7 linked regions of the Homo sapiens genome follow. The protein of the gene in region 1 purifies or fractionates together with the protein of each later gene. This does not show direct contact. Each region holds a gene or a part of one and is shown in the gene's direction. Other genes may lie near its edges.

The links.
Region 2: the proteins of MUC13 (region 1) and ANXA4 purify together in Homo sapiens (affinity purification with mass spectrometry, with the first as the bait; one study listed by BioGRID). This does not show direct contact.
Region 3: the proteins of MUC13 (region 1) and SLC25A24 purify together in Homo sapiens (affinity purification with mass spectrometry, with the first as the bait; one study listed by BioGRID). This does not show direct contact.
Region 4: the proteins of MUC13 (region 1) and DNAJC17 purify together in Homo sapiens (affinity purification with mass spectrometry, with the first as the bait; one study listed by BioGRID). This does not show direct contact.
Region 5: the proteins of MUC13 (region 1) and ALDH1A3 purify together in Homo sapiens (affinity purification with mass spectrometry, with the first as the bait; one study listed by BioGRID). This does not show direct contact.
Region 6: the proteins of MUC13 (region 1) and CS purify together in Homo sapiens (affinity purification with mass spectrometry, with the first as the bait; one study listed by BioGRID). This does not show direct contact.
Region 7: the proteins of MUC13 (region 1) and KRT79 purify together in Homo sapiens (affinity purification with mass spectrometry, with the first as the bait; one study listed by BioGRID). This does not show direct contact.

Annotation. Positions count from the first base shown.
Region 1 is NC_000003.12:124,920,988-124,924,966, reverse strand, and holds part of MUC13 (mucin-13 precursor), read left to right. Parts: intron 1-1,317; coding exon 1,318-1,440; intron 1,441-2,663; coding exon 2,664-2,770; intron 2,771-3,979. UniProt on the Homo sapiens protein: Epithelial and hemopoietic transmembrane mucin that may play a role in cell signaling.
Region 2 is NC_000002.12:69,804,451-69,808,429, forward strand, and holds part of ANXA4 (annexin A4), read left to right. Parts: intron 1-82; coding exon 83-177; intron 178-1,934; coding exon 1,935-2,048; intron 2,049-3,455; coding exon 3,456-3,546; intron 3,547-3,979. UniProt on the Homo sapiens protein: Calcium/phospholipid-binding protein which promotes membrane fusion and is involved in exocytosis.
Region 3 is NC_000001.11:108,193,654-108,197,632, reverse strand, and holds part of SLC25A24 (mitochondrial adenyl nucleotide antiporter SLC25A24), read left to right. Parts: intron 1-3,979. UniProt on the Homo sapiens protein: Electroneutral antiporter that mediates the transport of adenyl nucleotides through the inner mitochondrial membrane. Originally identified as an ATP-magnesium/inorganic phosphate antiporter, it also acts as a broad specificity adenyl nucleotide antiporter.
Region 4 is NC_000015.10:40,767,019-40,769,903, reverse strand, and holds part of DNAJC17 (dnaJ homolog subfamily C member 17), read left to right. Parts: intron 1-1,841; coding exon 1,842-1,964; 3' UTR 1,965-2,554; coding exon of another isoform or gene 2,555-2,678; 3' UTR 2,679-2,885. Other genes in the region: GCHFR (GTP cyclohydrolase 1 feedback regulatory protein), read right to left, coding at 2,555-2,678. UniProt on the Homo sapiens protein: May negatively affect PAX8-induced thyroglobulin/TG transcription.
Region 5 is NC_000015.10:100,878,301-100,882,732, forward strand, and holds the start of ALDH1A3 (retinaldehyde dehydrogenase 3), read left to right. Parts: upstream 1-1,530; 5' UTR 1,531-1,607; coding exon 1,608-1,706; intron 1,707-4,432. Other genes in the region: collagen alpha-1(I) chain-like, read right to left, coding at 721-1,503. UniProt on the Homo sapiens protein: Catalyzes the NAD-dependent oxidation of aldehyde substrates, such as all-trans-retinal and all-trans-13,14-dihydroretinal, to their corresponding carboxylic acids, all-trans-retinoate and all-trans-13,14-dihydroretinoate, respectively.
Region 6 is NC_000012.12:56,286,429-56,290,407, reverse strand, and holds part of CS (citrate synthase, mitochondrial precursor), read left to right. Parts: intron 1-3,762; coding exon 3,763-3,813; intron 3,814-3,979. UniProt on the Homo sapiens protein: Key enzyme of the Krebs tricarboxylic acid cycle which catalyzes the synthesis of citrate from acetyl coenzyme A and oxaloacetate.
Region 7 is NC_000012.12:52,831,139-52,835,556, reverse strand, and holds the start of KRT79 (keratin, type II cytoskeletal 79), read left to right. Parts: upstream 1-1,245; 5' UTR 1,246-1,296; coding exon 1,297-1,773; intron 1,774-3,930; coding exon 3,931-4,151; intron 4,152-4,418.

The DNA of each region.
Region 1 (3,979 bases):
ACTCTCAGATCTTCTCGTAAGAGTATGTTTATTTTTGTAAGAAACCACCAAACTTTCCTCTCAAAGTGGCTGTGTCATTTTGCATTCCCACCAATGAATGAGAGTTCCCATTGCCCCATATTCTCACCAGCATTATTTTACTTTTTATTTTTTAATAAAAGTAAATTAGGCCTATAATTATGGAAAAAACAGCTCAAACAGGGCAAAATCATGTACAATAAAAAATAAATCTCCCTCTCATCCTAAACCCCCAGGACCCAGACCCCCAGTTTCCTTCCCCAGAGGCAACTTCTGTGCCCAATTCCTTGTATCTCCCTCCTGAAATTACCTATGCAAATATAAGCAAATATTTGCTTGTGTATAATCCTTCCCTTCTTTTATTCACAAAAGAGAGCATGTTATACACATTGTACCTTACATACAGCTTTTAAAGAAATCAGTGGTTTCTACATATAGGTTTGTAAGACTCTCAAGACAGCTCTGAAGGTTATCAAACACATAAGCTATTCTGACATCACAGCTCAGAATCATTCCACTTGACAGAAGTGAAGAAAACTCATAGCCCAGATCACCACTGGACCACTGAGCTAACTCTCCTCCTCAGATCTCATCAGTTCCCCAGAGAAAGAAAGATGCTACACCCTGCCTGGCCTGGGAGTCTCAGCCCACAGTGTAGAACCCATTGCAGTGTTATTTTCACCATTTATTCAGATGATCCACTTAGAAAGCCAGAGGCTGGAATGTCTTCTCATGGCCTCTTAGAATTTTCACTGAGTTAATCCACATTTCTCTCCTTTACTATCCCATTCCTGTTTTTATGGCTATGTCTCCTAGGTATGCCTAACAGAATGTGACATCTAGTTTCTTTTGGAGCTTCTTGGCTGTTTCTTCCTATATGACAATTATTCATACCTTTCTAAAAATAAGATGTTTTATCTAGAATGTTTTGGGGAGCCCCACCTAGTGTTAGAGGACCATGCTTCAAGGTTCTGGAGGGACTTTGAGATCTGAAGATTCCTGACTCCTTGGAGTCAGAAGACTGCAATCTCTCTTTCTTTGGGCAAGCCCTTGTACACTAATCTCTGATCTTTACTATTGACAAGTATTATACTTGGCTCTAGAATTTCAGAAACAAACTCTCTAGAGACCTAAGCAAGCAAATATTTGTTTTTAACTCTTCCAAAAGTGTGCTGTGGAGTAACACAAGCAAGGAATGGAAAGGGCCCAGGGGGGAGGCATGAAGATGGAAAAATACGTTTCCAGTTGTTATTTATTGTCATTTCTCTGGATTTCTAATCTCTTTCTACTCCATCTAAGGTCCCAGCAATCCTTGCCAAGATGATCCCTGTGCAGATAATTCGTTATGTGTTAAGCTGCATAATACAAGTTTTTGCCTGTGTTTAGAAGGGTATTACTACAACTCTTCTACATGTAAGAAAGGTGAGTTACAAGGGATGAGCCATGGCTGAGCTCTGTATCTCACACCAAAAGTGGAATCGAAAACTCAAAATGATGGCAAAAGGAGATTCCAAAATATGAGAGATAAAGAAAATGCAGAGGCAACAAAGGCCAGCAAAGTAGAGAAAAGTGCTGTTACCTAGGGACACTGAGGCAGAACAAGGTGATCTATCAAAGACCACACAGTCCAGCAACCCTGGGAGCCTGATCTTCAGTTCTGTGTCACAAGATTTGTTTGCTCCATAACATCAGATCCCCCTCTTAGAGACATAAGAGCCCTTCAGCTCTAAAAATGGATTTCAGGAGTACATTTATACACTTGTGGCATAATGATGTTTTGATTAGATCACCAGGGTGCAGTGAAGGTCTGAGGGCTGACTGTCTGAGTTCTGTTTTTTTTTTTTTTCTGTTTTATGAATGAGAAATATCTTCATTTTCCAGAGCAGCCAATTCTATAAGAAATGAATGCATTGCATTGCCCACTGGGGTTAGGGATATACCAAAAGGCCCCCAAATGCTCATATTTTTAGCACTAATAATCTCACTCCTGGGGATTTACTCTAAGTAAGTGACCCCAAATACAGAAGAACAGTTTGTGTGTGAAGATGTTCATTGCAACTTTTTCTTTTCCTTTTAAATAATTAAAAGCACTAAGTCCAATAACAAAAAATGATTACATCAAGGAAGGGGACATGTACTTCACAGAATATTATGCAACCTTTAAAAATGATGGTTATGAGACCAGGCATAGGAGCTCACACCTGTAATCCCAGCACTTTGGGAGGCCAAGGCAGGAGGATCACTTGAGCCCAGGAGTTCAAGCCTGCAGTGACCCAGTTGTGCCACTGCACTCCAGCCTGGGTGATAGAGCAAGACCCTATCTGTCTCTCTCTCTCAAAAAAAAAAAAAAAAAAAAAGACTAGGCAACGATTTGGAAAATACCTATTATATAATAAGAAGAAAAAAAATATGGCATAAACTTGGAATTACAACAATGTAAACTGTAAATGGAAAGAAATATACCAAAATTAAAATGGTTGTGCTAGGTTGGGCAGGATGATGGGTAACTTTTAAAATATTTCCAGATTTCCTGTAGTGTCGTTATATAATGTTGGGAATTCTAAAAAATAATCTATGTTTTAAAACAAAATGGAAATGACCCTCTTTTCATCAAATAGTACAGAAAGATTCTGCTTAACTTTCAGGAAAGGTATTCCCTGGGAAGATTTCAGTGACAGTATCAGAAACATTTGACCCAGAAGAGAAACATTCCATGGCCTATCAAGACTTGCATAGTGAAATTACTAGCTTGGTAAGTATTTTCCAACTTTCCTTTCTGTAAAGCATTCTTTGTTCTAACACTGAGTTGCAGAGTGTAGAGCTGGTCTTCAGGTGGTTCACGCTCGTACCATCGTACCAGTTGTTCAAACAGTGAAATGTACCTTTACTGGTCGGTAAACAGCAGCTGTCCTGAGCGCCTCCACCGGTGCCACCACTTCTTCATTGCCCAGGCCTCTCCCCTGGGACCCTTGGACCACCCCATGGTCTTGCACCTGGAGGCGTGGCACCTGGCCTGGCATGGCAGAGGGCCTGCAGAAGCTGGCTCCAGCCATACCATACCCATTGTTTTATAAGCTATTAACACAGTTTTAAATGGACAGATAAATATCATGAAGTTTTAAAATAAATTATTTCCACAGAATGAAAGAGAAAAAATTTAAAGATGTTGTTTTTCTTTTTTATATTCAAATTTGCATAAATTTTCATACTAGTCTGGCTTTTAAAAAAATGTCTAGAAGAAGAATTACATCTGAATATCTGTTACTTATTTTTCCCATTTTCAAAAATGTTGGCATGAACAATAGTTTCCCATCATTTAGATTATTGTGAGCAAGTGCACACATGTGAGCAAGCATGAAAGGAAAGGGTCTTTCCATTCTGCAGCCACAGATGTTAGCTCTGGAAGGACCCTCAGAGCATGTCCAGCCAATACAGCTCAAAGTTCAGTTTTAAAGGAAAAAATATTAGCCTTAAATATGTCTTAGAAGTTGAGGTGGAGGCTGGGCATGGTGGCTCATGTCCGTAATCCTAGCACTTTGGGAGGATGAGGCGGGCAGATTACTTGAGGTCAGGAGTTTGAAACCAGCCTAGCCAACATGGTGACACCCCATCTCTACTAAAAATACAAAAATTTAGCCAGGCGTGGTGGCAGGCGCCTGTAATCCCAGCTACTCAGGAGGCTGAGGCAGGAGAATCTCTTGAACCCAGGAGGTGGAGGTTGCAGTGACCCAAGATCATGCCACTGCACTCCAGCCTGGGCAACAGAGTGAGACTCTGCCTGGAGAAAAAAAAAAGGAAGTAGAGATGGAGAGACATTTTTTTAAAGCTGAAGTCTTATTCCATGACAATGTCTCTCAATTTGAAATTATATCACTATTAGAACTGGTAACATGTAAAAAATGTATCGTGGAAATGATTTTACAGATGGTGCAAAGAGAGCTAGTGCTTCCGACTGCACAGC
Region 2 (3,979 bases), on another chromosome or scaffold:
TAACTCCAATGTCCACAGAGGAACCTGCTTTCTCATTCCTCTCTCAAATCACACTTACCTGCTGTCTCCCTTCTTCCCCCAGGCACCGATGAAGACGCCATTATTAGCGTCCTTGCCTACCGCAACACCGCCCAGCGCCAGGAGATCAGGACAGCCTACAAGAGCACCATCGGCAGGGTAGGCCACAGTCTTTCCTGCTCTGTCTGGCTGACTTCGCAGCAACAGGAAGCAGGGCCTCTTCCTGATCTAGGTTCCCGAAGTGACCTTGTGTTTTAAAAGATCGATCCTTTGTCTTGTTTAAAGATGTTCTTGAGGCCAGGTGTGGTGGGTCACACCTGTAATCCCAGCACTTTGGGAGACCGAGGTGGGTGGATCACTTGAGGCCAGGAGTTTGAGACCAACCTGGCCAACATGGTGAAACCCCATCTCTCCTTAAAAAATACAAAAATTAGCCGGGCATGGTGCTGAGCACCTGTAATCCTAGCTACTTTGTAGGTTGAGGCAGGAGAATTGCTTGAACCAGGAGGTGGAGGTTGCAGTGAGCCAAGATCATGCCACTTCACTCCAGCCTGGGCAACAGAGACAGACTCCATCTCAAAAAAAAAAAAAAAAAAAAAAAAAAGAATAGCGATTCAGCTCCTTCTTCGTCAATTGATCTTAAACAAGTTCTTAAACTCTCTGACCCATTCCAGGAGGAAATGTGAATAAACATCTTTAGAATTTGGTCCATTTTCCAAATAATTATATTTGGAAACTATATCTCAGGAATTGAGCCTTAAGAAATAGTCATGAATGATCACAAAGATACAACTAAATGCCTTATGTATATAACAGTAGAAAAATAGAAACAGGTGACTAGTTAAAGAAATTAGGCTGGGTGTGGTGGCTCACACCTGTAATCCTAGCACTTTGGGAGGCCGAGGCGAGTGGATCACTTGAGGTCAGGAGTTCGAGACCAGCCTGACCAACATGGTGAAACCCCGTCTCTACTAAAAATACAAAAAAATTAGCTGGGCATGGTGGTGGGCACCTGTAATCCCAGCTACTTGGGAGACTGAGGCAGGAGAATCGCTTGAATCCAGGAGGCGGAGTCTGCAGTGAGTCAAGATCGTGCCACTGCGCTCCAGCCTAGGCAACAGAGCAAGACTCCATCTAAAAAAAAAAAAAAAAGAAATTATGTTGCACCTATCTATAGAAATCTCCACAGCTGCTAAAAAGGTTATCAGTGAATATTGACTTGGAAGTATATTCAAGACATATTGTTAAGTAGGCAAATACATTTACATCGGTGTCTACAAACATATTCACCTCAAAGTTCCTTTACCTCTTAAATTTTTTAGGACTTTTGGTTTTGTGGGTTATATCTTTTGATATTTGCCCTATTAGAAACTAAAACTGAGGGCATTTAAAAATAGATATTTGTTAACTTAGTAAAAATAATAAGTATATTGTATGTTACTGTAAATAACATTTTAATGAAAAATAGCTATATATCCCAAAACGAAAAAACATTTAGTGAGAAGATTGGCATTGTTTTACATTTTGCAGATCTCTTTAATGTCTGGCTTAATGGAAGACAGATGGCTTCTCATATCTATTTCTACTTCAATTTGTTATGATATGTGGTTTTGGTTGGGGTATATGAAGAAAATCTGGCTTGTACAGATATGTACTTGAAAATGGGGGGAGTATTTGAACAGACAGTTGTTGATGCACAGACAATGTCAAATAGCCTTAGGAAAACCCCACTGTATGCTTGTGGAAGAATGACAGTGAAAAGGCAAATAACATCTGAGTGTTATTCTGAGGATAGTTTTGACTTGCAGGCCCCTTGAAAGGGTCTTGGAGACCCCAGACATCCCTGGACCACACCTGGAGAGTAGCTGGTCTAATTTGCTATAGCAGTTAAGCGGAGCTACTTTCTTGCATTGCAGGACTTGATAGACGACCTGAAGTCAGAACTGAGTGGCAACTTCGAGCAGGTGATTGTGGGGATGATGACGCCCACGGTGCTGTATGACGTGCAAGAGCTGCGAAGGGCCATGAAGGTCTGTGCTCTTCCTCTCGTGCTCTTGGTGCTGTTGGTGCAAACGCTGATGTGCTTTCTTAAGAAACTGTCACCCAATAAGAAAGACATGGAAGCAACCTAAACGCCCATCAATGGTAGACTGGATAAAGAAAATGTGGTACATGTACACCATGGAATAGCTGTAAAAAGGAACAAGATCATGTCCTCTGGAGGAACATGGATGGAGCTGGAGGTCATTGTCCTTAGCAAACTAAGGCAGGAACAGAAAATCAAATACCATATGTTTTCACTTACAAGTGGGAGCTAAATGATGAAAACACATGGACACATAGAGGGGAACAACACACACTGGGGCCTGTTGGAGGATGGAGGGTGGGAGGAGGGAGAGGATCAGGAAAAATAACTAATGGGTACTAGGCTTAATACCTGGGTAATGAAATAATCTGTACAACAAACCCCCATGACACAAGTTTATCTATATAACAAACCTGCACATGTACCCCTGCACTTAAAGTAAAAGTTAAATTTTTTTAAAAAAGAAAGAAACTATGACCAAGGCCTTCTGAGAGTAGCAGGTGTAAAGTATAGGAGATTTTCCTTCATTTACGACAACTTGAAAACATCATTACTTTACATTATACCAATTATAATTTAAAAGTTCTTTTCCAAAAAGTTAGGGAATCATTTGCTCCTTCCTGTGGCTCAATGGGGAGTGATTATAATTGTCGCTTTTAGTACAGCTCTAGAGACTTTTAGCTATCTCTAGACAGCTAACTACTTTTGAGATATGTAACTTTATGACTGACACTTTAGGGGCCTCCAGGTCTACTATAGGCTTACTTCTGGCAAAAGAGTTCCTGGCTTCCCTAGATGACGTACCCACTGTGCCCTAGCCTGGTCTGCCAAATTTTAATGACCAAGTATGTAATGCAAATATAAATGGTCCCCACCTTAGGATGGTTCTACTTAAAAATTTTCAGTGTATTGTACTCCTCATCATAAGTCGAGGAGTACAATTATCCTCCTCAACCATGTCAATAAATACTCAGACTTGTGGAAGGTTCTGGGCCAGGCTCTGGGAAAGCAAAGAGGTGACAAAGTCTTTGCCAGAAAATTCTGCCCTTCAGAGGAAGAGAGCAGAAGAGGTCAAGGAAAAATTAAGTCCCCAGAGGGCAGAAACCATACCTACCCGGGCACAGTAACGAACACATAATAAACAGCCTAGAAATGTTTGTTATTACTCATAATTGTTACGGCAAACACTTTGGGTTTCGGGTGGGACAATAAAAGTGAACAAACCCTGTTGTTAGAACGCAGTGGATTGTCTTTATTCTCTGCAGATTCATGACAGATGTATTCCTTCTGTGTCTGGGCCTCAGCTTTGTAAACTGGCTCATATAGCCCTGTCCTCTGGTTTCTTGTTTAGGGAGCCGGCACTGATGAGGGCTGCCTAATTGAGATCCTGGCCTCCCGGACCCCTGAGGAGATCCGGCGCATAAGCCAAACCTACCAGCAGCGTACGTGACATCCGCAGTGGCCCTGGCTGAGGTTTCGCTGTGATTAGAGAATGAGGGTAGCAGCGGGTTGTTGTTTGCTGATTAGACTTTTCACAGAACGCTGAGCATGAGGGATCCTCGGTGCCAAGCTCTGCTTCGAGGGAGATCCCTGTTTAGCCAAATGGCGGTCTGTTGGCTCCTTAAGATTTCTCAGGTGAAGATGACACTCTATTTTGCCTACCCAGTGCAGTATTTTATTACCCTAAAAGTTGGAAAGTTGTTCCTTATTATCAGACAAAGAATCTAAGGTACTTGTTCAAAAGTGGTGGCACCAGCAGATCTTAGCATTCCAAGGAATGGTCTGGAGGGGCCGTCTGGCCCAAATTCTTCCCTTCAGACTGGACTGTACGTCCTCCAGCCAAATCAGAATGACAGCCATTCACTCCCCCTTAGA
Region 3 (3,979 bases), on another chromosome or scaffold:
ATCTGGGCATCCCTTAGTCCAGACGAGTTGATACATAAAATTAACCATCACACATGGGATAGAATTAGGATTACACAGTCAACCTTTATGGGAGAAAATTTCAGAGGCATGTCAGGGGTTTATGTAATGTCAAGGAGTGAGGACATTGGCTACTTGAGCATAGAAATGAGAACTGTGGGGTGACTCTTCGGTGGAAAGTTTCAAGGTAGTAGTTTGTATCTAAGCCAAATACTCAGCTTGAAGCAAAATCTCTATAAATTTTCATCTGATTTGATCTCATCTCCGTGTTTCCAAGCATTTGTAATGAATTGAGCATTTAGAAGAGAACAAATTTCTGTTTAAGTTTCTTTAGATTTTAGATGGAAAGAATGTAGAAATAAGAGTAGAATGTAGAAATAGGTATAAGGAATATAATAGCTAACCATTACTAAGTGTTCCAGAATTATCCAGGGAAGAGAAAAGAATTCAAGGCAAGTCCTGAGACAAAATTAAGAACCAATTGGAAGTGAAAGCGCTACATTTTTTTTTCTGGTATGACCTTTCTTTTCTGTATGTTCCAAATCTCCTCACTATGAAATTAGTGAAAAATTAAAGTTAAAAATTAGAGAAAATTCACATTAAGTTCTCCTAGGACTCAGTAGTATAAGGGTATAGACTGAGAGTAGAATGTAGTGTGAGAACAAGGAGATACAGTATTTAACCATTACTAATTCTCTTATACTTGTCTAGTAATCCTATTTCCTTTTAAAAGTCTTCAGTTATTTTCTCTTTACGCACCTCCTTCTCCCTCTTGTCTTCCTCCTTCTACCCCCATCTTCTTTCTTCCTGTGGAGCCTTCATGAATGGGATTAGTGCTTGTATAAAAGTGACCTGGAAGACCTTCCTTGCCCCTTCCACCATGTGAGGACACAGTGAGAAAACAGTGGTCCATGGAACCGGAAAGTGGGTCCTCACTAGACAGTAAATCTCCTAGCACTTCGATCTAGGACTTCCAGTGTCTGGAACTGCAAGAAATCAATGCTTATTTTTTAAGTAAGCCAATAGTATTTTTGTCATAGCAGCCCAGTTGGACTAGGACAATTATCAAGAGCAAGAAGGGAAGCAGCAAGCTACAAGAGAGTTCCGTCCTTGGTGTAAATTGACCGTGTAATCCTTGTCAAGTTTGAGCCTTACTGGAGCTTTACTTTCTTATTCTTAAAATGCAGATATCTTGCCTGCATCCTGGACAGAGCTTTTAACAAGGTCATATGTTGCAGAATATGAAAGTTCATGTTAAAAAACCCTTTAAAATGTGGTATCCCATTTACTAGCTGGTGAACTTCTTGAGGAACCTCTGTGCCCATGGGTATGAAGTGTATGCTGAATGATCACCCAATGTTAGAGGAGTGGGTGGACTGGTAACCTGATTTAAGGGCCATTCTAACTCTTACATTCTATGATTTTTTTAATTCTGTCTTTAAGTTTTTACATTTACAATCACAGAAAAAATAGTCACATAGAAGAATAGTAGCTTAGCAAATGTTTATTGCATTGAGTGGAATCAGGATTTCACTCCATTAAGTAATTCCTCTGTTAACAAAGAGGGTTCATTTCATTTTTATTTCATTAATATTGCTTTTTTTTTTTTTTTCTGGAGACAGAATCTTGCTCTATCACCAAGGCTGGAGTGCAGTGGTGCGATCTCGGCTCACTGCAGCCTCTGCTTCCTGGATTCAAGCGATTCTTGTGCCTCAGCCTCCCAAGCAGCTGAGATTACAGGCACATGCCACCACACCTGGTTAACTTTTGTATTTTCTAGTAGAGATGGGATTTTGCCATTTTGGTCAGGCTGGTCTTGAATTCCTGGCCTCTAGTGATCTGCCTGCCTCTGCCTCTGAAAGTGCTAAGATTACAGGCATGAGCTACCATGGCCAGCCCATTTCCTTAATATTTTAATTGTCAGACATGTTATGGTTTCTGGCACAATATTAAGAAGACATGATATGAAATCACAGGGTGAATTTTAGGGCATCACAACAGAAAGATTATGGTATAAGAAAAACAATGGAATTCCAACTACATTTCTGTCAAATGTTCTAAAATATATAAAATCTGTATCTTTTGTGTTCTCTCCTGATTTATATTCTAAATTTGATGTTATCCTTCTCTGCAGAAATAAAGTGTCTGAAAGAATGAAAAAAATGGAAGAATTCTTTAGTAAGGTATAAAATACCCTTTCTATCTTTGTAGCATTCTAAGCCTTTTGTCACCTTTCCAAACTCCCAACATGCCATATTCCCTGACTAGGCCACAGCCATGTACATTGATCCCTTTATTTTCTTCTCTCTGCCTGAGATTTCTCTCATTCCCCCTTCTCTGCCTGGTATATGATTGCCCATTGTTTAAGGCCCCAACTCACCTTTATAATCTTCCTAGCCCACTTTCTTTATCGGTATTCCAGAAAAAACAAAAGAAGCTTCCACAAGACAACATTCTGTAATACACTGCTTAACTTCTTTTGACCCTGCTGAGTTCAAAAATCTTATCTTTTTAAGGATTGAATGGAGTCCACCAAGGTATCTATATTTGACAGGATTTATGAAAACAAAAGGATTTGTTGAGAAAGTTTGAAGCCTAACTCTGAAACGTGGATCATAGTGTTTACTACACATTAACTGTTTTAGTGGATGTAATAGTTATTATTATAGGCTGTGGAATCAGAACAGGGTTCAAATGTTTTCACCGCTTGCTAGACTGTGGCCTTGGGCATGTTATTTAATGCCTGGAGGCCTCAAATGTTAACTAGGAATGGTAAGACCTACCCAGTAACTTAGCATAAATAGTAAATTCATTCATTTAATGTTTTCAAACAGTGCCAGACATTGTTTAATGAACTGGGGATATAGTGGTGAACAACACTGACAGCGTTCTTCATTGTATTCTCAAAACCCTCCCTATAGTAAGTAGGTCTGTGTGTGTGTGTAGGTGCATGGGGAATAAAAAATAATAAGCAAATAATGAACAGGGTAATTTCAAAAAGCAGAAAGAGCTATTCAACAAAACTACCTGCCTTTTATTAGATGAAACTCTCAACTCTATGGTTTGTTCTCTCCTGTCAATTCTGTTAAATGCTGTCAGCCTGTTTTCCTTATCACCCTGGCCACGACTTCTGTCTTTTCTGCTTGGTCCTGTAGACTCTAACCCAAGGCTCATTCTCTGCCTGGCTATCTGCCTTCTGTGGCTCTTTGCCACTACCTACATTTTCTGTGTTGCACAGGGAAGGACCATTCCCTGTGGACCATAAAATTCTCTTTTTGAAAGAATTCATTCTTGATTGGGCCACAGCACATCTTGTGAAACAGCATTAGACATTTGCCACTGCTCAGCAGCTCTGGGGGAAAATGTTTACTGAGAAGCGTACAGTAGTTTTTTTGACTAACCATGGTGCAACCTCCTCCCAGAGGGAAACCTATGAGTATTTCAAGGACATGTGATGGTCTGTTTTTGTCCCCAGTATCTGACATGATGGGTAGTGTAGAGCAAGAGCTTACAGATAATGGCTAAATTAAATTTTCTTTTTGAATTTTAATATTCAACTTTTTAGGGTACCCAATCTCCATATTTAGGAAAATAAATTACATAAAAAGTGGAGAGTTTTTATTGTGAAACTGCACCTCCATATTCCCAGTGGTGCAGGATGAGGGAGCACAGGTGTTGGTCTGGGGAAGCCAGGGCCCTCTGTGGTTCTGGAGGGTGAGGATTAAGAGGAAGCCTTAGATAGTATTTATGAGTATCTGCTGACTTCTCTCTGGGACCCAAGATCACTGAACTTTTGCCTATTTTGAGATCATCTTTCCAATCCAGCCACTAACAGCTGAAGGATAGGCTTGCCCTGGAGCCATTGTAGTGGTTGGATGAAGATAAAAGATAAAAAACTGTGAGGGGAGGTGTCACAGAAGAAAGGGCCCATGTGGGCAGATTTTCATTCAATTCCTAGTCT
Region 4 (2,885 bases), on another chromosome or scaffold:
AATTGCAGCATCCGCGTGCAGGGATGGGGCAGCTGGGACCAACACCCCAGGGCAATGGGGAGCTTAAGATTCCTCTGGGGACTCGTGTGGGGGCAGCCCTGCTTTATGTGTCACCACGCGGCTTCCTTTCTGATCACAGCCCCACCACCCTGGGCCCCCAGCAGGTGCGCCTGGCTCCCTGCCCACAGTGTCTGGGTAGGAAGAGTTCGGGGCGGGTGGGAGTTAATTGAAAGGCAGGCGTGTGGAACGATTGTTGGGGAAGGAAGAGACCTGTAGCTGGTATGGGTGACTCAGCCCCGCTGTCAGGCCCTCACGAGCAGGAACAGGAAGGGGGGCAGAGGGTGTGTTAATGGGGAGCAGCGCCATGCCTGTGATGGGCGGGCTCTGCTGCCCAGGGTTGGGCTGGGGGCCCGCCAAGGGTGGCTCCAAGTTTTCTTGGCAGAGCAGCATTAACCTGGGGATGGGAGATGTGGCCTCCTCTTGGCCTGCCATCAGCCTGGCTGCTATTTCCTTGTCCTCCCTTGTTTTACCCTAGAGGGCTCCTGCCAGGAGAGCGGCTGCTGAAGGCCGGGCCGTGTTGCCTCCTACCTGGCTGTGCTCCAGCCCTTCCCCTCTGGCTACCGGGCTTCCTCTGGGGTCCTCCTTCTCTTGCAGGAGGCTGGGCCAGGGAGGCTGCCGTGAATTGTCAGCCGTGCTCTGGGCCAGGCTTAGCAGTCCGGCCTAGCTGGGACTGCTGCAGCCGGGGAGAGGGGAGGGGTGCAGCCATCGGGAGGAACAGGGGAACCCAGGCTGAGTAACACTTCCTGTTTCTCTACACCCCTTACTCCAAACCTGCTGGCCAGGGCCTGGCATCTCAACCCTAGCTGCTCCCTTCCTATTCCCCGGGTCACTGACCACCACATTTTCCTCCTGCCTTGCTCTGTGACAGCGTCCCCATGCGGGGTACCGCGGATCAGGGCCCCACAGCTCTCTGCTACGGGCAGGCCACCGCATCTTGCAATCCCTGGCCTAGCTCACTTCTGTGCCAACTCAGGTGTGCTTCACACTTCTCTGAGAAGCTGTTGGGACCACATGATCATCACACAGCCTAAGCGGCACCGAGGGAGGAAAAGGTTTAATTCCCACCGCAGACCTTATCAGGGCGTGGGTTGGCAGCTTAGGTCCCGCTGTAGAGCTGCTTCTCCACCCTACAGCCTTGGCCCATTCAGATGGTTGTTTATTATTCTTTTGATTATGGGCCCTGCCCTCCAGGAGCCCTGGTGTGTAGTTTTAGAGGCACGCTGGCCTCATGCTTGCCTTTTTCCCCTTCGAGGGTGGGGCATTCCGGGCTGCCTCGGGTAGGGCTCCCTTCTGCATCCTCAGCAAGAGCCAGACCACAGGGCACCGGGCATAGAGAGTGCCAGGGTCAGTGCCCAGCAGAGCCAAGTGCATCCCTGCTCCTCAGACAACTTCCCTTCCTTGGGAACCTAAGAGGCAGAAGCTACGGGGTAGAGGGAAAGGGGTGAAGGGTAAAGGGCCCAGAGGAAATGAAGGGAGACGAGGGCCTGGCTTAGAGGGCCCGCAGGTGATTCCTGAGAAACAGATGGACCGGAGCTGACGCGGCCTGGGGAAAGGGAGGGGGAGCTGGCTGGGTAGAAGCCGGCCTGGAGGCCAAAGGTGGCGTGTTCTGGGGGACACAGGCGAGCCAGGATTCCAAAAGGATGCTCCGGGTTCCTTCCCTTCCTCTGCCGTCCTCCCTCCGAGACTCTTAGAACGCAGCACTGCCTCGGCACCGTACTCGGAGTCTGTGAGGCTGTGCCCTGCTGTCCCTGACCCCTCCCTGTCCCTGCCCTGTCCGACAGGGCTCAGTGCTGTCAGAGAGGGACTACGAGAGCCTCGTCATGATGCGCATGCGCCAGGCGGCCGAGCGGCAACAGCTGATCGCACGGATGCAGCAGGAAGACCAGGAGGGGCCGCCTACGTAGCCCCAGCTCCAGCCATCCACCCCTCAGCCCTTTTCTTCAACGTCACCAATAAATTTTTTTTTTTTTTAAGATTTTACCTCTATCCCATACATAGGTATAAGGTGCTGGGCTCTGCCGCAGAGCGCTCCACCCAGGCCTGGCGCCCCTCCCAGGAAGTGGGCAGACCCCCAGGGAAACGCTCCGCAGGGTGAGAGTCCCAGAGTCCGTGCACAAGCAGAGCACAGGCGCAGCCACTCATCACAGCCCTTTATTGGCTTGGGCTAGCTATGCAGGAGCCACGCGCCAGGGCCGCTGGAGTGCCCAGCTCCGGCCCGGGGCAGCTGCCCGAGGAACATGGCCTACACAAGGCCCTCGGCCCAGGCCCGAAGCAGGAGGGCAGCTGGGAGCACCAGGGCACCGGGCACTGCCCTCTCCCACTGCTTGACGCAGGGTTTCAGAGAAGGCCATTCACTGCCCTTTGGGGCTGGGCCCATGGCGGTGATGATTTGGGAAGAGAGGAGCAAGGCAGACGGTGAGGCAGGAGCTTGGAGGTCAGGGCCCACAGCAGCCCCTCCACAGGGGTGCCCCGTCTGCAAATCAGCATGAGAAGGTCACTCCTTGTGCAGACACCACACCAGCGTCTGGCCCACCCCCGTCATGCTCAGCACACGGAAGCCCCTGCGTTCCAGCTTGTCCAGGACTATGCGGGGAGGGTCATCGACGTAGTATTCATAACTGCAAAGAGACAGGATGGGGGGGGTGAGGAGGGGCACACAGCAAGCTCCTGGTACAAAGCTAGTGTCTGCAGCAGGCAGCCTGGCCACTCTTGTAGTGACTCACACTTGCTGGCTGCTTGCTGGGCGCTGGGGTAAGTGCACGCCCCCTGCCTCCTCCCCTTCTAGGTACTTCACGAGCTATCTCATTTATTCTTCCCAACAAGCT
Region 5 (4,432 bases), on another chromosome or scaffold:
CCAGATGTTTTCAGGAGATCTGAGTGGGAGCCATGGGGCCAGCCAAGAGGGCAGGGAGCCCCGGATTTGCAGAAGCAGCTGAGGAAAGAGCTGGCATTGCTCAGACTCGCCAGTGTTAGCCAGCCGATATCGGTCAAGGCTGCCCCGCTCGAGGGTCCATTATCCCCTTTCCCCGGCCTCAGCTGTGCACTCCAGGCCATAACAGCACAAGACCTTTCCACAACCCCAGGGTAAGGGTCAGATGTGGGGTTTCCAAAAGCTTCAAAACTTACCCCTCTATCCAGCTCTATCCAGAAGGACACCAGGGGACAGAGAGATGGACACGGAGGCCTCAAAACAGGAAAATAAGGAGACCCCTCCCCATTGTTGATTACTTGGGGTTACCTACAGAAAGAGATGAACTGAAGGGGCTGAGCCTATCTGAGGATTAAAGCACAGCTTTTGTCAGGAGTCCGTGCCTCCGGTCTTTGTTCCAGCGACCTGAGGAATGGCATGCATCAGAAGCCGCTTCCGTGTCTCAGATGGGGCCTGGGTCAAGTCCTGGGAGTTGATGGAGCGTTTCCCAAATCGCAAAAGGAGAGGAGCTAGACTTACCTCCCCCTCCTGGGAAGTAATGCGCGACAAGAATTTAAACTCTTAAAACGATTAGCAGCAAAGGTCTCATGTGCTTTTTTTTAATTATCATTTTTTAATCGAGGTATAATTTATGCATTTAAAAAATCAGATCAATTGCCCCCCGGGCTCTGGGATGGAAGGCGGTGTGCGCCTGCGAAGGTCAGAGGCCCAGCGGCGCCAGGGCTCCTCGGCGGAGAGCCGCCCGGGTCCGGCGCTTTGCTTTCGCCTTCTGCCCCACCGCGGGCGAAGCCCCAGGGCCCCGGGGAGACTCCAGGCCGGCTGGGCCGGGGTGCGCCCGCCGGCTGTCCGCGCTCGGGCAGGGTGGGGCGCAGCGGGCGTCTGTCCTGCTAGCGGGGATCGGGCGGCTGGACCCAAGAGCAGGGCACGTGCGCAGCGACGCGGGGCGGCCCCGCCAGGAGCCCCGACCCGGGCGCGGCGCAGGGCCCGGCGGAGAGCGCGCATTCCCGAGCGCCGCGAGCCGGCCGAAGTCGGGCGAGCGCGCCGTGCGGCGGCTGGGAGTGGGCTGCATGTGCCGCGCGGGGAGCCCGCCCGACTTCGGGGAGGCAGCGGGGCGCCGTGGCCCCGCGGCTCAGCTCCCTGCCGGGTCGGGTGTCCCAGCCCTGCGACTTCCGGGGCCCGGCGGCTCCTCGGGGAGCTCGTCCACAGGCAGCCTCCGGGGCGAGAGAGCGCGCGGCGCGGGCGCCGGGACGGTCCGCGGCACGCGGGTGGAGCCGCCGGCGCTCGGGCTCCCGCAGGGGCGGCGGGCGGGGCGGGGTGAGGCGGGCCGGCCGCCCTCCCCTCTCCTCCCTCCCGCAGCCCGCCCTCCCTTCCTCCGGTCCCGCAGCCAATTAGGCGGCCCCCTCGGGCGGGAGGCGTGGGGCGCTGCATAAAGCGGCGGGGAGCTGCCACCCCGGGAGCGGGCTGCGCAGTGTCCGGGCCGAGCCGGTGCGCCGCAGACTAGGGCGCCTCGGGCCAGGGAGCGCGGAGGAGCCATGGCCACCGCTAACGGGGCCGTGGAAAACGGGCAGCCGGACAGGAAGCCGCCGGCCCTGCCGCGCCCCATCCGCAACCTGGAGGTCAAGTTCACCAAGGTGAGGCGGGCGCCCCTCCCACCCGACGGCCGCGGGCCCCTGCGCTGGGCAGCCAGACTCGGGGCGGCGGGGGCGAGGGAGCAGCGGGCCGGGGGTCCGCCGGGCGCCGCCGAGACCCGAGCCTCCCTGCCCGGGCGCGGCTCTCCAGAAACCGCACCTTTCGCGGGACGTCTCGGGCGGGATCGCAGGCGGCGGGGCTCGGCGCTGTGAGCCTCGAAGCCGGGAAACCGAGGCCGTCCAGCGCCCGCGCGGGGCCGGGCCGCCCGCATCCCTGCGAGGCCCCGACGTGTCCCTGCGCTGCCCGCTTTGATCGCGAGTGGAGGTGCGCGCCGCGTTGACTCGGAGCGCGCTGGTTTTGGGGAGCTCCCTCCCCAAAAACCCCTGCGATGATTTCCAGGGTGGACGAGTCTGGCTTTGAGAGGGTCGGAGGGTCCGAGAGCGCCAAGAGAGAGTCCGGGAGGCAGATGGCGGAGCTGCAGTTGGAAGACTGGGGAAGCGGGTCCTCCGAGCAAAGCGCAGCGGGCGCCTTCCGTGCTTAGTTTATACCCGGCTCAGCAGCAGAACGAGGAGGAGTAGGAAGGTGCTCGCTTACTGACGAAACCTCCCCGGAGCCCAGAGGTCCCGGTGTTTACACACAAGGCGCGCGCTCCGGAAGGTCGCAGACCTGGGCCTTTGGGAAGCGGTGGGTCGCGAGGCCGCAGAAGCGCACGGTTCTCTGCCTCCTCGCTCTGTGGGCTGGGAGGCTACAGCGTTGGCAGAACGGCGAGATTACCTGCCCGGGGCAGAAAGGAATAAAAGAAGATGGTGAGGCCTCCGAGGCCTCTGAGCTGGGGCTGAGGAGGGCCGAGAGACCCGGGTCCGGGAGCGCGACCCGATGGAGGACACCCCCAGGCTGTCTGGCGTGCGCGTCTGTCGTGGGCCGGTGCTGGGGCACTTTAGAGGCACAGGCCAGGCCGAGAGCCATTGCCTTAACTTTCCCCACCTTTGGCTTCTCTTGATTTTTGCTTTTACCCATAGCCCCCAACTCCAGCTGACACCGCACTTAGAGAATTTCCTCATCCGTTTTACTTTAAGAAGTAGCAATTATCTTTCTCAAAGAATTTTAATCAAGCGGAGAAAGTTGCAGGGCACTATGTGTGGCCTTCAGATTTGGGTCTCTTGGCACTTAATTCCCAATGTCGGCTGAGCCTCTGATCACAAGACATTTAAATTAACTGTTTTCAGAAGGCTCTGTAATCAACAAAGACACGTCGCTGTAAACTAAACGCTGGAAATTATTCTTAATGTAGTTTTATTTGTAATATCAGCTTCAGAGTGAAAATTCCAACACGAATTCTGGGAAGAGTGAAAATGGTACCCGAATTTTGTAAGACCCTAACCCCAGGTGCTTGGCTGCTGCTACTGATGGTTAAGTGGGGAGGTTGTTTGTTTTCTTTTGGTTGTACAGGATTTCAAAATACTGTATATAGAAACCAGACAGTAAATGTATTATGGTCCTTTTACTTTTTATGTTTTTGAGTCCTATCAGCAATCTGACCACATACAAAAAGTTTACCTCTTTCTCTATGATTTTTAGGACACTTTTAAAGTGTAGATGTAGCCCTTATGGAGACCTTAGACAATTCACAGAGCAATGGTTGCCTGTTGTCTTGGTGGGTGCGCAACCTTTGCCAGTTAAAGGGAACCAGTGCAGGAATGAGGCTGAGGGAAGCTGGTGGATCGGCCTGGAGTGCTGGGATCTTGAGTGGTCTCCCAGGCGATAAAGGCCCCAACTGCCTGACACCGGCTGCTGGCTCCTCACCCGTTGGGGGACTGTGCTGCTGCCTGCTCTGTCCTGGCTCCTGGCCCATCTCTGCAGAGACCTCCCCATAGCAGTTGTGGACCCAGGCAGCTTGTGTGGCTGAGGGTGGCCAACCAGTGCCCTGGCACAGTCCTCAGGGAGACTGGACTGGAGAGGCGGCCGAGAGTGAGGCCACCAAGAGTGCCTGCCGAGGGAAGGAGCGGGATAAACTGAAGTGCAGGACTGAGGCCCAGAGTGGGCGAGTGGCCCGGCAGGTGGGTGGCCTGGCAGGAGAGCAGACGGTGGAGCATGGGAGCCAGCAGTGGTCTGCTATTTTCCAAAATTGACTCATGGTGCTTCTCGATAATGGGGCACACACCAGAGTTGGTCCATCTGAGCCCTAGCCCCGGCAGTGCCATTTCCCAGGGTGGTCCAACTTTCAGGATGACTTTGTCAAAGCCCCTTCATTTGTCCTCACATGTTAACATTTCATTCTCTAGGGTCATGCTGTGTGATTCTGGAGAGCTGAGAGCCCCTCCAGGGTCCCCACACAGATCTCAGAGGATAGAAGTCCCTTCTAATTTAGAGGGCCTCTTTCTTTCCTTATAAAATTTCTTCCAGTAGCAGGGATTCTCTTCAAAGTTTTCTGATTTTTAAAACACCGGTTTTTATTATCTCTCTTATGAAAAATAAAATTCCCCCAAATCTCCTTTTCTGAAAACATATTCTTTTTGAGTTTAGCTGAGTGGCCTGTTGTCAGATGGAAGTTACGGGAAATCGGCATCAATAGGATTCACTTGTATGACTGTCATCTTCACCTCTGCCTGAGACACCTTACAGCTCCGTCCTGCTTCCATGTCATTCTGTTCCTTTTGTAAAATGTGAACCAGGTCTACAGCTCAATGTAGCTTAATGCTATACCTCTATAAGGTTTGTTGTATGCTAA
Region 6 (3,979 bases), on another chromosome or scaffold:
AACCCCATCTCTACTAAAAATACAAAAAATTAGCCGGGTGTGTTGGTGTGCACCTGTAATCTTAGCTACTCAGGAGGCTGAGGCAGGAGAATAGTGTGAACCTGGGAGAGGGAGGTTGCAATGAGCTAAGATTGTGCCATTGCACTCCAGCCTGGGTGACAGTGTGAGACTCCTTCTCAAAAACAAACAAACAAACAAAAAAACATAAAATCTTCCGGGCACTGTGGCTCATACCTGTAATCCCAGCACTTTGGGAGGCTGAGGCAAGTGGATCATTTGAGGTCAGGAGTTTGAGACCAGCCTGGCCAACGTGGTGAAACCCTGTCTCTACTAAAAAACTACAAAAATTAGCTGGGCATGGTGGCGGGTGCGTGTAGTCCTGGCTACTCGCGAGGCTGAGGCAGGAGAATCGCTTGAACCTGGGAGGCGGAGGTTGCAGTGAGCCAAGATCAAGCCACTGCACTCAGCCTGGGCAACAGAGCAAGACTCGGTCTCAAAACAAAACAAAACAGAAAGTCAGCTGGTTGCAGTGGCTCATGCCGGTAATCTCAGCACTGTGGGAGACTGAGGTAGGAAGATCGCTTGAGCCCAGGAGTTCAAAGCCAGCCGGGGCAACATAGCAAGACCCCCGTCTCTATAAGAAAAGTTTAAAAGATAAAATTAGCTGGCCGGGCGCGGTGGCTCACGCCTGTAATCCCAGCACTTTGGGAGGCCGAGGCGGGCAGATCACGAGGTCAGGAGATCGAGACCATCCTGGCTAACACAGTGAAACCCTGTCTCTACTAAAATACAAAAAATTAGCCAGGCGTGGTGGCGGGTGCCTGTAGTCCCAGCTACTTGGGAGCCTGAGGCAGGAGAATGGTGTTGAACCTTGGAGGTGGAGCTTGCAGTGAGCTGAGATCGCACCACTGCACTCCGGCCTGGGTAACATAGCGGGACTCCGTCTCAAAAAAAAAAATTAATTAAATTAAATTTAAAAAAAAATCACCACAGCAAACAACCACCCTCAATTAAAAGGTCTCCTGCTGGGCTGATGTAGTCTCTGGGACATGGGGCCTCTCTAGTAGGGAATCTGTGGGACTCTAAACCATGGAATAGCTTGAACAAGGTTAACTCTGTAGAACAATAGTTTGAACTTATTAACATGTTTTCTTTGCCCACTTTTTTTGTGAAAGAAAGGGCAAAGTTACATCTTCAGTGCTGGGTTCAGCTTCCTGTTTGCCCATGTAGGGTGCAAGGGCTATGAAGGGCTGTTTGTGCTGCCTATTTTCTTGCTCAAGTGATCCTCAGTAAGATAGAGGAGACTCTTGAGGAAGTTAAGAAAAGGAGTTAAGGACAGCCCTGGTAACAAGTTGAGGTGTTCCTCGTTTGCTTTAGGAACATACTGGCTTGGTCTATGCTCTCTGAATTTACCTTTGGATTGATTCTTTTAAAAGTAATCTTTTCTGTCTGGGTGCAGTGGTGCATACCTGTAATCCCAGCACTTTGGGAGGCTGAAAATGGAGGATCACTTGAGCCCAGGATCACTCGAGGCCAGCCTGGGCAACAGAGCAAGACCCCATCTCTACAAAAAAAAATTTTTTTTTTTTTAATTAGCTGGGCTTGGTGATGTGCGCCTGTAATCCTGGCTACTCAGGAGGCTGAGGTGGAAGTATCACTTGAGCCCAGGAATTGAAGGCTACAGTGAGCTATTAACATGCCACTATACTCCAGCCTGGGGGAAAGAGTGACCTTTCTGAAGGGCCTCTTTTCATTCCTCCTCTCCGTCCCAACAGAAATAGGGGAACTAAATTTTAAAAATTCTAAAAATCTGGGAGGCCGAGGTAGGCGTATCACCAGATGTCAGGAGTTTGAGACCAGCCTGGACAACATGATGAAACTCTGTCTCTACTGAAAATACAAAAATTAGCCAAGCATGGTGGCGTGTGCCTATAATCCCAGCTACTCAGGAGGCTGAGGCATGAGAATCACTTGAACACGGGAGCCAGAGATCACGCCACTGCACTTCAGCCTGGGCGACAGAATGAGACTCCATCTCAAAAAAAAAAAAAAAAAAAAAAATTCTAAAAAGCCTTCAGCCCTATAGAACTCTCACCCCAGGCAGGTAGCAATTTTTTGCACAGAGAGCAGTGCAGTAGTTACTAGAAAAGGTGCCTCTGGTCTTTTGACAAAAGGACAGGTGCAGCCTTGCTCCAGGATTAGTTTATTTCTGTGTGTAATCTTCTAAGTCTGCAAAGCACTTTTATATCCACTGTAATTTAGTTATCATGGGACTATTCTGTGAGGTGTGTGGTGAGTATTAGAGCCATTTTATAGAGCAGGAAACTTAGGCTTAATTTGATTATCTCAATTTGTTTTCAAAATCTAGTACAGAAAAATTAATTTCCTTGCCTCAGGCCGTATTCCTAGTTAGTAACCTGATTGGTCATCTTATTTCAAAGTTGGTGTATGGCCTGGCATGGTGGCTTACGCCTGTAATCCCAGTGCTTTGAGAGGCCGAGGCAGGCAGATCACCTGAGGTCAGGAGTTTGAGACCAGCGTGGCCAACATGGTGAAACCCCGTCTCTACTAAAAATACAAAAAAAATTAGCCAAGCATGGTGGTGCATGCCTGTAATCCCAGCTACTCAGGAGGCTAAGGCAGGAGAATCACTTGAATCCAGAAGGCTGAGGTTGCGGTGAGCTGAGATTGTGCCATTGCACTCCAGTCTGGGCAACAAGAGTGAAACTGTCTCAAAAAAAATAAAGAAAAGGAAAAAGAAAACTCACAAAGTTGGTGTGGAACTTTTATTGCAACTTAACAATCTTCTCACAGATGTATTTTTTATTTGAGGAAAAAAGAAACTACCTGTACACACAGAAAAGCATAAACTAGCTAAACTATTTTCTCTCTCTCTCTTTTTTTTTTTTTTTTTTTTTTTTTTTTTTTGACAGAGTCTTGCTCATTTGCCCAGGCTGGAGTGCAGTGGCACAATCTTGGCTCACTGCAACCTCTGCCTCCAAGGTTTAAGCCATTCTCCCACCTCAGTCTCCTGAGTAGCTGGGATTACAGCTGCCTGCCCATACCACGCCTGGCTAATTTTTGTATTTTTAGTAGAGAAGGGTTTCACCATGTTGGCCAGGCTGGTCTTGAACTCCTGACCTCAGGTGATCCACCGCCTCAGCTTCCCAAAGTGCTGGGATTACAGGCATGAGCCACCGCGCCCAGCCAAACTAATTATTTTCTTTTGACACTCTTAGAAACTTTGCAAGTTTCCATTTCTGCTAATGAGTAGTCTTCTGTCAGCTTCTTTGTAGATAATCTTTGTGCTTTTTCCAGGAGGGTCAGAAGTACCGTTATGAAAGGCTGCCCTCTGCCTGTGGTCTTTCCCAGATTAGAGAGGTTGAAGTGCTGTCGAAAGACCAGGTGCAGGAGAGATCTTACCAGCAGTGTTAAGTAATTGCTCAGTTTCCTCATTTGTTTTCCTTGGGGTCACTCAAAAATATTGATAACCGCCCTGCTCTGGAGCCCAGATGATGGGAAAGAGTCTGTCTTCAAGGAATGCTAGTGAAGCTATGGATGAAAAAAAGCAGTTAAACCTCCTGCTGTCTCCATAGTGGTAACTCCTTCCAAACTGTTTGGGGACTTTTACAGCTTTCTTATGTCAAACTGCCCTAAGAGACTGAGATGAAGAGAGAGAGGTTGAGTCACTGTAATTCCTTCTTGTTAATATAAAAGAGGGAGGGGTAACAGTTACATAAGGTTCTCTTTTTTGCTTTGCAGAATGCATCTTGTCTTGTTCTTGCAGCCCGGCATGCCAGTGCTTCCTCCACGGTAAGGTTTGGAAAAGAAGACTAAGAATAAGAATCATTGCGGCCAGCCTGACCTTGGGGCAGAGGATTTGGCAACCACCTGGCCTCTTATTATCCTGAGTATTTCCTGGAAGTGTTTGTTACTATTGTTATTGTTATAGCTGCTATTATTATTATATTACTATTTA
Region 7 (4,418 bases), on another chromosome or scaffold:
GGGGAGCACAGCGATGCTGTCCTCGCTCCTTTTTTTCAGGCAAGTCTCTGTTCACTTTGAGCCCATCTTCTTGCTGAGAGAAGGGGGTGGGGAGGGCCAGTGTCTAAAGTCACCTCCTCAGTCACCCCTCGGCCCTGACAGTTGACGTCTCTGTCTTTGCTTGGGGCTGTGTTTGGTCCCAGCAGACTGAGGTGAATAGGAAGTGGGCGGCGGGGACCATATGAGGTGATTTAAGGAGCTCCCCTGGCCCCTCTGAATCAGAAACATGGGCTCCTGCATGTGGGGCAGGGGAAGATGGGAGTGACGGGGCTGCTGCGTGGGCCTCCTGGGGCTTTTTTGGAACACCTGCTTTTTGGAGCTGTGCCTGTCTCCACCCAGGGTGGTCTGTGTCCTTGACCCACCTCCAGCTCCCTCCAAAGTGGCTGAACCTTTCTGTGGGGACTCTGCTGTGGGGTAGAGGCTCAGGGATCTCAGGTATTGGTTAAATCCCCTGCCCTCTCTTCAGCCTCCATAAGAATGTCCTTTGCTCCCAGGCTTCTGGGCCCTGCCTGAGGACCCCAGGCCTTTTCTACCTCCTGATCAAGGGCCTGGGCCCCACGATTGGGCAGGGATCCTCTTTCTGTCCTTGAATTCACTTTGCCAGCATAGGCTCACTTCCCAGAAGGCTCTGCCACTGTACGGCAGAGGCACAGGCTATCCCCACTCTCGCCCTGTCACCTGTGTCACACACCCTGGACCTGGGAGGAGTGGTGGGCCGTTGGCTGGGGGTGGGATGGGAGCAGGCCTGGATGCTCTCTCTGGCAGCCCATTGCCCAATGCTCCTTCTCCTACCACCTGTACAGCCCCAGGCCCTGCAGCCTTGGCTTACAACAGGGGCCTGGGACAAACCCCGTAGAACAGAGCCCTATTGACAGTGGCCTCTGGGGCTGGGTGGGAGGACAGCAAGCCAGCCACTGGGTGGTGGGGGTGGCCATGGGAGCCCGTATCATCCTGTGCCAACCGAGGAGAGCCTGGGGGCAGGGGGAGAAGGTGGCATCCTGCCCCAGACAGTCTCGGCTCAGCCCCAGCTCTGGAGCACAGGTGATAACCGGGAGGGCCCCTCCCTCCTGCTTGGGGAGAGGGCACTCCCCGTGGCCCTAAGGACCCCTCCCTCTCCCCTTGGGGCGATGGGGCAGGAGTGTCTGTGGAGCTGGGGAGCCGGCCCAGTTGGGAAAAGATAAAAAGCCCACAGTGGCCCAGCAGCTCACGGCACTCCCTTCCTGCCCTCTCATCCTGCCCTCCGGCCCCTCTGCAGCTATGAGGTCCTCCGTCTCTCGGCAAACATACTCCACAAAAGGGGGCTTCAGCTCCAACTCTGCCAGCGGAGGGAGTGGGTCCCAGGCCCGCACCAGCTTCAGCTCAGTGACGGTGTCTCGGAGCAGTGGCAGTGGTGGCGGGGCCCACTGTGGCCCCGGCACAGGTGGCTTTGGCAGCCGAAGCCTCTATAACTTGGGGGGCCACAAGAGTATCTCTGTCAGTGTGGCCGGAGGGGCCTTGTTGGGGCGGGCTCTGGGGGGCTTTGGCTTTGGCAGCAGGGCATTTATGGGACAGGGGGCTGGCAGGCAGACGTTTGGGCCTGCTTGTCCTCCTGGGGGGATCCAGGAGGTCACTGTCAACCAGAGCCTGCTGACCCCCCTCCATGTGGAGATTGACCCCGAGATCCAGCGAGTGCGCACTCAGGAGCGGGAGCAGATCAAGACCCTCAACAACAAGTTCGCCTCCTTCATCGACAAGGTGGGCCAAGCAGGAAGGAGGAAGGGAGCTCTTGGGGAAGAAGCGGGACCTCTAATAGAGGGTGGGCTGGGCCAGGGCTGCTGTAGCCCACTTGTACTAGGGTGGTGGTTGATAGAGCTCTGGAGCTCTCCCGGTCTGAGCCTGGGATGCCGAGACGTGGGTGGCTGGAGGCGGCCTTCAGGTCTTCACCGTGCCTGTGCGGGGGGAGTCTCCAGTCTACTCATGAGTCCGGTTTGCCAAGTCCACCTTGCCCGTGTTGAAGCCTGTCCTACCACCATGATTAATACGATTGATTGCACAGTAGCCTTACCTCATCATCAAAAAATGGATTGTCCTCATAGCTCCTCTTAGTGGGGTGGCCTGCATTGCCTTTTGTCATTTTACAGCTGGGGAAACAATGCTCAGGAGTTGAAAGAGTTGTTCAAGGCTAAGAGCATGGAGCCCTGTTTGTTCCATTCTTTCAGGCTTGGAGGAGGCTTAAGGGCAAGATGTGATCAAAACACAGTTGTGTGTGGGTGGGGTCCTAGGGGTAGGCTCCCTTCCGCTTCTCCTTTTTTTACACTCTGAGTGAAGAAGCTCAATTTGGGGTGGACAATGAGGAGGGTGGTCACCAGGTCACCAAGCTCTGGGAATGTGGAATTTGACCTGTTGCCCATAGGCATGCCCTGAACCTTGCCCTTGCCTCCAGATGGATGGGAGCAACACTTGTGCTGGGATTTCCTGGTCTGTTTCGCTGGCATTGTCCACCTCGATCCTGAGCCAAGGCAGCGGGTCATGATGGGGAAGGTCTGGCAGACAAATGTACCTTGGTTCAGTGATTTGTGTGTTTCCGAAGAACATGCACATCCCTTTTCTCCTGAGGTACCCACAGTGCTTCTATGAAGACTCAGAAATGGTGATATTGTGCCCATTTTTGAGATGAGAAAATTGAGGTCTAGAGAGCTCAAGTGATTTGCCCAGGATGATACAAGGAGTTGGAGGCAGAGGCGGGACTGGGACCCAGGCCCCTGGACTCTGTGGTTCTTGGCACTAAGAGTTGTTACTGCTCACAATAGGCACACCTGCTGCATGATGCTCCCAGGGCATGTGACTGAGGCCCAGGTAGTGTGGAGATGGGACCTGGAGATATTGGATGACAGAATATGAAGCAAGCCGTCTTGCCTGCCTCCTCACCCTCTCCCCTAGTGACTTTTGGTTTTCCTGTGGGACTGTCCCAGAGGCCAAACAAGCCAAAACCTTTCTCAGGATTGCAGAATCACAGCTTGGGAGCTGGAGGTCTGAGAGATTGTCTTGGAACCCCAGCTGGGCCAAGAACTCTCGGGGGTCCTGTTAAACCCACACCGTAAGCCTCCTTCTGAGTCTATAGAGGAAGGGCTCAGACATTGGTACTTTAAAAAAAGTTTTTTTTGGGAAAAAATGTTGAATTTACAGAAAAGTTGCAAGAATAGTACAACATACTCCTGTATACTCTTTCACCCAGTTCACCAATTTTCTTAATTTATTATTATTATTTTTTGAGACAGGGTCTTGCTCTGTTTCCCAGACTGGAGTGCAGTGGTACAGTCATAGCTCACTGCAGCCTCCATCTCTTGGGCTCAAGTGATCCTCCCACTTCAGCCTCCTGAGTAGCTGGGACTACTGGTGCATGCCACTACACCTGGCTAATTGTCTTGATTTTTAGTGGAGACAGTCTTGCTATGTTGCCTAGGCTGGTCTTGAACTCCTGAGCTCAAGCACTCCTCCAGCTTCAGGCTCCCAAAGTGTGTGATTTTAAACAGTTGATTTACATTTTAAACAGATGATTTTAATGCAGAATTAGGGGTCAGAAACATAGATCTAGTCCAGTTTATGCAGGACAAGTGAGAGAGGGAGACTCAGAGAGAAATGATTCGACCAAGGTTACCAACTAGTAAATTGGTACTGCTACTGAGCTGGGCTTTTGTGCTTATTAACTTGGTAGAGTTCTTTCCATCAGATTGGACGGTCGTTTCCAGCAGTCTATTCCCCTAAGGAGTGCCTCCCCACAGCAAAGTGTAGGTGCGGCTGCAGCGTCCCTATGTTGCCCTGGCCTTGGAGGGGAGGTGGCAATGGACCCCATCCTTGGCTCCTCTGGTGACCGGAGGGTGACATCAGCCCACCCTTTCTGCTCTGGCTCAGGTGCGGTTCCTGGAGCAACAGAATAAGGTGCTGGAGACCAAGTGGGCACTGCTGCAGGAGCAGGGCCAGAACTTGGGTGTCACCAGGAACAACCTGGAGCCCCTCTTTGAGGCCTACCTGGGTAGCATGCGGAGCACGCTGGACAGACTTCAGAGCGAGCGGGGGAGGCTGGACTCAGAGCTCAGGAACGTGCAGGACCTTGTGGAGGACTTCAAGAACAAGTGAGGAGAGCAGGCCAGGCGGGGCCATGTGGGAGTGAGGAGGGGCAGTGGGAAACCTGCCAAGAGGGCCACCCCATTCCCAGGGTCCCAGGCCCACCTGGGGGATGCACAGACAGAGCTGGCTCCCTCAGGTGCTCAGGTCCAGCACCTGCTGCCACCTGGAGAATTGGCAGGTTTGTTTGTAATTTAAAAAAGTTTTTAAAGTAGGGGGAATAGTATAATGAACCCCATGTTCCTGTCACCCAGCTTTAATCATTATCAACTCAT